Homo sapiens: one gene and its partner. The protein of the gene in region 2 interacts with the protein of the main gene of each other region in a pairwise test. Each region holds a gene or a part of one and is shown on either strand. Other genes may lie near its edges.

The links. The genes of interacting proteins can lie anywhere in the genome.
Region 1: the proteins of CLDN2 (region 2) and LPAR3 interact in binary tests that used the Homo sapiens proteins (3 or more experiments, as listed by UniProt).

What each region holds. Positions count from the first base shown.
Region 1 is NC_000001.11:84,862,207-84,865,706, forward strand, and holds part of LPAR3 (lysophosphatidic acid receptor 3), read right to left. Parts: coding exon 3,179-3,500; intron 1-3,178. UniProt on the Homo sapiens protein: Receptor for lysophosphatidic acid (LPA), a mediator of diverse cellular activities. May play a role in the development of ovarian cancer. Seems to be coupled to the G(i)/G(o) and G(q) families of heteromeric G proteins.
Region 2 is NC_000023.11:106,919,147-106,923,201, reverse strand, and holds the start of CLDN2 (claudin-2), read right to left. Parts: upstream 2,801-4,055; 5' UTR 2,651-2,800; intron 1-2,650. UniProt on the Homo sapiens protein: Forms paracellular channels: polymerizes in tight junction strands with cation- and water-selective channels through the strands, conveying epithelial permeability in a process known as paracellular tight junction permeability.

The DNA.
Region 1 (3,500 bases), on a different chromosome or scaffold from region 2:
TCAAAAACATCAATATCTTCTCCAGCTCGAGGGGAAATGCCGATTAATGTGAACCCTCTTTTTCTTGTTCTTGTCCATTTTCTTATCAATGTGTCAACGGTGTCAAAGCAGAAGACAGGACAAAAAGATGAGCGTAAAAAGTCCAGATAAATCACAAGTAGCCACAGAGTATGGTGGTAAATATGTGAACTCTAGAGGCCAGCTGCGCAGTGAGTCTTGGTTAACAGCTGAGTGACTGGACACACTGCTTAAACTCTCAGTTTCTCCATCTGGTAAATGGGTATAATAGTAGCACCTATCTCACAGGGTTTCCATGAGAATTAAATAAGTTAATGTTTGTAAAAACACTTAGGACAATGCTTGGCACATATTAAGCACTATATAAATATTTGTTAAATAAATCCTCAGTTTGAAATTATTTTAACAATCACACTCTGTGTCTGCTGACCCCCAAATCTTACTAGCAGTTTCAGGACCTAGAGGCATTGTGAGGGTTTCTATACCACACCACACATACTGTATCCTCCACTATGAACTGCTACCTGATAATTCATTTTATAATTCCTTCTCATAAGGAGTAGACAGAAATGTACTCCTGAATCTCTCTCAGCAACAGTCCCCATTGCTGCAGCCACACACACAGTGAGAAACGGCCTCTCTGCCTTACAAGACAAGTTCTGTGAAACCACAAAAGTTCTTGTCTGCCCACACATTACAAATTCTACCTGTAACCCAGAATTAGAACTGGGGAGGTGGGGCAATAGGCCACCTACTTCAGAGAAAATAAAACAAAGGGAAAATTCTACGAAACCACATGTCTTCTTGGTACAGGGCTCACAACCTTTCTCTCCTCCCTTTTTTTTTTTTTGGTTTTGTTTTTGTTTCTTAAGACAGGCTCTTACTCTGTTGTTCAGGCTGGAGTGCCGTGGTGTGATCACAGCTCACTCAACCTCAACCTCCCGGGTTCAAGCGGTTCTCCCACCTCAGCCACCCAAGTAGCTGGGACTACAGGTATGCACCACCATGGCCAGCTAATTTTAGTATTTTTCATAGAGATGGGGTTTCACCATGTTGCCCAGGCTCTTCCTTTCTTTCTCAATTTTACTCCAATCAGGCTCTTGGCTATACCAAATGTGATGATCTCAAGATCAGCACAAGTCCACCACTTTGGTAAGGCCAGCAACACCTGGTCTTACACCACCTCTCAGGGGTACCAACACTGCTAATGCTTCCTCTCCTCGATTGCCTTCTTCTCTTTCTTCTAGTTCCCCAGAGTCTCCTGGGTTTTCCATCCCTTCTAGGGCTCCTTTGCTGGCTGCCCCTTACCTCCTGACCTCCTTACACTGGAGGGCCTGCCCTACGGCTCCATCCTTGGTCCTCCTCTCCTTCATATCCACATTCACGTTCATGGTGAGCTCACGCAGTCCTGTGATTTAAAATACCAGTTTCCCCCCAGGACTCTCAAATGTACATCTCCAGCCCAGACCTAAATCTTGAATTCCTGAGTCAAACATCCAACTGTCCACTCAATAAAATTGCCACACCCCTTGGATGTCTAATAGGTTCCTAAATTTAGCTTGTCCAAAACCAAATCTTCCCCCAAAACCTCCTCCTCTTCAGTCTTCCTCATCTTGGTTAATGACATTCCCCACCTTCTCCTCCACCTCTCATCTTCCCCTCTACCTTACCCATCAGTAAATCCTTTAAAAAATATCTGGAATCTGGCCAGGTGCAGTGGCTCACACCTGTAATCCCAGTACTGTGGGAGGCCGAGGCAGGCGGATGGCTTCAGCTCAGGAGTTCGAGAGTAGCCTGGGCAACATGGTGAAACCCTGTCTCTAAAAAAATTACAAAAATTAGCCGGGCCTGGTGGCACAGGCCTGTAATCCCAGCTACTTGGGAGGCTGAGGTAGAAGGATCACTTGAGGCCAGGAGGTGGAGGTTGCAGTGAGCTGAGATTGCACCACTGCACTATAGCCTAGATGACAGAGCCAGGTCCTGTCTCAAAAAAAAAAAAACAAAAAACAAAAAAACAGAATCTGACCATCACCTTCAACTACCATCTGGCCATGGTGATCTCTCCCGAGTACTGAAATACTCTATTAACCCATTTATGCCAGGGGTTGCAAATTTCTTTTGTGAAAAATCAGAACTTGTCAATGACCTTGAGCAGTAGGATATAAATAACTCCCACAAGCTTAGCATTCCAATAATGGAACACTAGGCATAAATAGGTTAAACAATTTTCCTGTTTTTGCTATTGCCTCATTACAGCAGTGTCTTAAAACAGTAGCCAGAGAGATACCATTAAAATATAAGTCAGATCATGTCACTCCCCTGTTTAAAACCTTCCCATAGCTTCTCATCTCACTTGAGACTGGCCCAGCCAACATGGAGAAACCCCATCTCTACTAAAAATACAAAAATTAGCTGGGCATGGTGGTGCGCTGCCTGTAATCCCAGCAACTTGGGACGCTGAGGCAGGAGAATTGCTTGAACTCGGGAGGTGGAGGTTGCAGTGAGCTGAGACGGCACCACTGCACTCCAGCCTGGGTGACAGAGTGAGTGAGGCTCCGGCAAAAAAAGAAAAAAGAAAAAAAAATGAAAAGCTGAAGTCCTTATAACCACATGACCCTACATTATCTGAGTAGCCCATCCCCTACCCCACCAGCTCCCTGACCTCATCTTCTCCTACTCCCTCTGCTCGATCCATGCAGCCATAGTGGCTTCCTGGCTGGTCAGGGCTCCTGTGCTTACCGCTTCTCCCACCTGGAACACCCTTCCCCAGACACCAGTATGGTTCACTCCCTGACTGCCTTCACACCTCTGCTCAAAAGTCATCTTCCAGGCATCCCTCACAACACTTTTTTAAAGTGCAAACGATACCTGCTTAGCTTAGCACTCTCCAGCTCCCTTCCCTGCTTTATTTTTCCTTCCTTCCCTGATTGATTTTTCCACAGGAGACTCATCTTATTTCACTTAATTTGTTTACCCCCATTAGAATACTTATTTTATCTTTCCTTATTAGAGTGTAAGCTCCAGGTGGGTGGCGATTTATGTCCGTTCTTGTTCACTGCTGCATTCTTACTGCCTAGTAAGTGCCTGGTACACCACAGATGCTCCGTAAAGATTTGCTGAATGAATGGGAATGATGGCTTGCTTGGGTCCTCTTACCTACCTAAGACAGTCATCACCGTCTTCATTAGCTTCATGGGTGTCCTCCGGCGGCTGATGGACCCACTTGTATGCGGAGACAAGACGTTGGTTTTCCTCTTGACGTACACGTAGATCCGCAGGTACACCACAACCATGATGAGGAAGGCCATGAGGTTGGACACTGTCCAGAAAACAAGGTAACTCCTGCTGTAAATGGGGGCCAGGGAAGAGCAGGCAGAGATGTTGCAGAGGCAATTCCAGCCCAGTGTGGGGACCGCCCCCATAAAAATGGCGATGGCCCAGACAAGCAAAATGAGCAGTGTCACCCTCTTTTTGGTCAGGTT
Region 2 (4,055 bases):
GGAGTTTGAGACCAGCCTGGCCAACATAGTGAAACCCCGTCTCTACGAAAAATACAAAAATTAGTTGGGCGTGGTGGCATGTGCCTGTAATCCCAGCTACTAGGGAGGCTGAGGCAGGAGAATCGCTGGAACCGGGAGGTGGAGGTTGCAGTGAGCCGAGATTGTGCCACTGCACTCCAGCCTGAGCGATAGAGCAAAACTTTGTCTCAAAAAAAAAAAAAAAAAAAAATCTTCAGAGCTCTTAAGTATTTCAGGATGAAGTTCAAACTTGCTAGCCCAGGAAACCAAGAAAGCCCTCCATTATTTCACCCCGGCTTTTCTTCACAGCCTCATCTCACACCATTAACCTCCAACCTCATGCTTTATGCTCCTATACATACACATATGATCCAGCCAAACCTAAGCACTTGAATTTCTCTGACTGCCTTTCTCTCTGTCTCCAAGCCCGTAAGCATGCTATTCTACCATCCACCATTTGCTTGGATAATTGCAAATCATCTTTGAGGATGCATCCTTGCCTTGAAACCATCCTTGGGCCCTCCCTGCTCCTCACCCAGGCTGGGTTCAATACTTTTCCTTTCTTCCTCCTATTTGTATCTGAGCTTTCAGTGAGAATTGGTGAGATACCTTGAGGTTTTCAAGGGGAAGACCTACTGCTTCCCAGAGGAGCAGCTCCTGCTTCAGCCTTCCTGGGATGGCAGCTGAAGAGTCAAGCTTGAGTTTCCCAAGGGAATCAACAGTGTCCCCAAGAGGAAAGCCTCTCCCCAGAGCCTGTCCTAAGTAGTAGTAAGTAGGCAAGTGTTTTGGGGTGAGGGAGAGGGCAGAGTCAAGAAAATGCCATTACTGAGGCTTGGAATCTCTAGAGTCTGACTTGGCATAGCAGCATGCCCAGGCAGGAGGAAGAACAAGTTATTGGAGCTTATTCAAGTGATAGAAATGGCCCCATGGAGGGGGGGTTCAGCTTTCCACCAGAGTTAGGAAGACCAGCTAAATGGCGAATGGTTGGGTGGTGAGACAGGCTGGATTCAGCCAGGTTTTTGTTTGTCTGATGAGCAGTAGAGGTGAGGGCAGACAGGGTCCTGGTGTTAGAATCAAAAGATCTAGCTTCTTGTTGTGTCAGTTCTGCCTAGAACCTGCTGAGGAAGTCCTATAGCTTCTCTAGGCCCTAGTTTGTCATCTCCAAGATTTTTAGTCTCAAATAAAGGCATGGGGACAGGAAGCCACTTTGACAAATATAGAAGACTGAAGAGCTGTTATTAGAAGCAGCCAGTTTTAATAGAAGCCTCTCTTTGAGGGATCCTCCTAGAAGTCAAGTACTGGCTGCGTTGGAGGTACAGAGGACTCTAGGCCTTGTCAGCTGAATTTGTCTTCTGGGCATAGGGCCAACATACTCCATGGCCCAAGGACTGGGCAAGAAAGTTTAACTTAGGATCCTTACTTAATCTTCCCTAGTGGGGAGATTGGAGCTGCAGGAGAGGATTAGGAGGGTCAAGATTGACCGCAGCTCCTGACTTAACCCCTTCTCACCTAGGTACTTTCCCTGCTATTCTCCCCATCTCTTGCTCCAAGAGTCTTGTGCATGGTACTCTTTCTTTGGCAGTACCCTCCTAAGACTACATGGGACAGGGCACTTGGGGTTCCCAGGCTCAAGGAAGGAACTGATGTGGCCTTCTGGGGGTGATGATGGCCACCACAGCCCTCTTCTGTCAGTCAGCCTCATTTCTATATCCCTTGATCTCACTGCCCCTCATAAGAATCTGAGACACTTGCCCCCTTCTCTGAAACTCACTTCCAGCTGCCAAGGGCACTAGTAGGTGGCAAAGCCATTCCCTTGAGGCCCTACTTTCTTGAAAGTTTGTCCTTAGAGCAGTTCATCTTTCCTTCTACATCAATTGATTGATGGCAGTTCAGAGAATTGCAACTGGATTGAGAGATTTTCTTATTGTTTGAAAAAGAAGTTGATTTTTGTCCTGATCATCAAAGTAAAGCATTCTCACTTTAGAACACTGGAAAACACAGAAAGGCAGAATTTAGAAAACAAAAATCGCCTACGATCTCCCCGGCCATAAGTGCTGTGAATGTTTTGGTTCCAACTGCATTTTCAAAGAGGGCACTTGAAGAGAGTAATACCTCAGTCGAAAGAAGGAATTTCTAATGACAGACTTGCAGACCAGTGAGGGAGAGTCCTTGAAGGACCTCATGGGGAAACTTTATGACTTCACTTAGGAACCCACCTTCTGCTACCTCCCTGAGCCTTCATGCCAAGGAGGGCACTGGAGCTGGCTGTGAGGGAGTGCCCCTTCTGCCACTCCTCAGTCCCCTACACTTAGGCAGAGGGGTAAACTGTGGCTCCCTTCCTCCAATTTTTATCCCAGTCCTTTTAAGCCCCCAAACCAGAAAATATCTGATTTGGAGAGTGCTTTCTCTGGTCCTGAAGTTTTAAAGATTTGAACCTTTGTGATAGCTTTGAGGGAACAAATACCACCAACCCAAATGCCACCGGAGTTTCCCCTCCCATACCCTTCACTCAGAAACCCAAGGTGGCCCAGCCTGGCTCCACCATGGGGTGAATGGATAGTGACTAGGAAGGAAGAGTGCCCACCTCGGTGAATTTAAAAGGCAGCAACTATATCAGGATGGAGATACTTACAGGGCAGTTCTTTGCAGAGCCTTGGAGGGGGAGATGCCCCTGGAGAGGGAGAAAGGGATCCTGAGGGAGGGGAGCGAAGTACAAGGGGCCACGGGCTGAGGTGATAAAGGATTTCTAATCGTTAACCACAGCTTTGCAAAATCCATCTGCAAATCTGAGCCGTGGGTCAGAGACTTATTACAGATCAGAATTAAACCCCTGGAGGCTGGGAAAGATTGAGGCACTTTAGAAAAAAAAAAAAAAAGGTTTGGTGGGTTTTCTGTGTGTGTTTTTTTTTTTCTGTCAAAAACTCCACTCCAGCTGGGCTTTTGTGTGGTGACCTCTGTGAACCCAGGAGAGGCCTTGTGGGGAGGGGGATTTGGCCCAAGAAGGAATTCAGAACATTCCAGCTTTGAGGGTGGTGAGAGGAGGGGGCTCTGTCCCACCAATTAGGTGTCCCTGGCTAGCAGCCCTGAAGCCCAGCAGGGAGTAAGCTGCATAAACACAGCCCTGGTGAGCCAGTGCCCAAGCAGCCCTGCATGGCCTGCAGCTCCATAGACTTTTCTACTCAGCTTGATTCTCTGGCAGGCCCTCAGCCCTACCCCACCCCTAAGGTTGGTCCCAAGGCTCAAGGGCAAACATGGGTACTGTAGGTTCAGACTCTGAGTTCAAAGAGCAGGTCCTACAAGGTGGAACTGAGTAGGCCAGCATAAGGACAGGGCTCTCCTTTTTACCACACATGGCAGTGCCATGCACTATGTCATTTAAGCCTCTCAAAAGTGCTGTGAAGGCCGTGTGCAGTGGCTCACGCCTGTAATCCCAGCACTTTGGGAGGCCGAGGCGGGTGGATCACCTGAGGTCAGGAGTTCGAAAACAGCCTGGCCAACGCGGTTAAACCTTGTCTCTACTAAAAATACAAAAATTAGCTGGATGTGGTGGTGCGCACCTGTAGTCCCAGCTACACGGGAAGCTGAGGCAGGAGAATCACTTGGACCCAGGAGGCGGAGGTTGCAATGAGCCGAGATCATACCACTGCACTCCAGCCTGGGTGACAGAGTGAGACTCCATCTCAAAAAAGCAAAGCAAACAAACAAAAACCCAAACAACAACAGAAATAAAACCAAACCAAAACAAACAAACAAAAAAACATGCTGTGGAGTAGTAGAGCGCAGTGACTGGCTTTACTCTCCCAACGCAAAAAAGCTTTCTAGTTTTTTCTAAGTAGAAAAATACTAGATGCTATTGAAAAGAATTCAGAAAATGAATTATAAAGAAGAAAATAGAGGTCCTCATAATGCCACCAGCCAGAAATAATCATTGCTAACATTTTGATGTATTGTAGAAGATATCGATGGGATTTGTTTTATAAAATTGAATCACACTATACCTACAGTTTATGTAACCTTACATCATTTGTAAATAACAT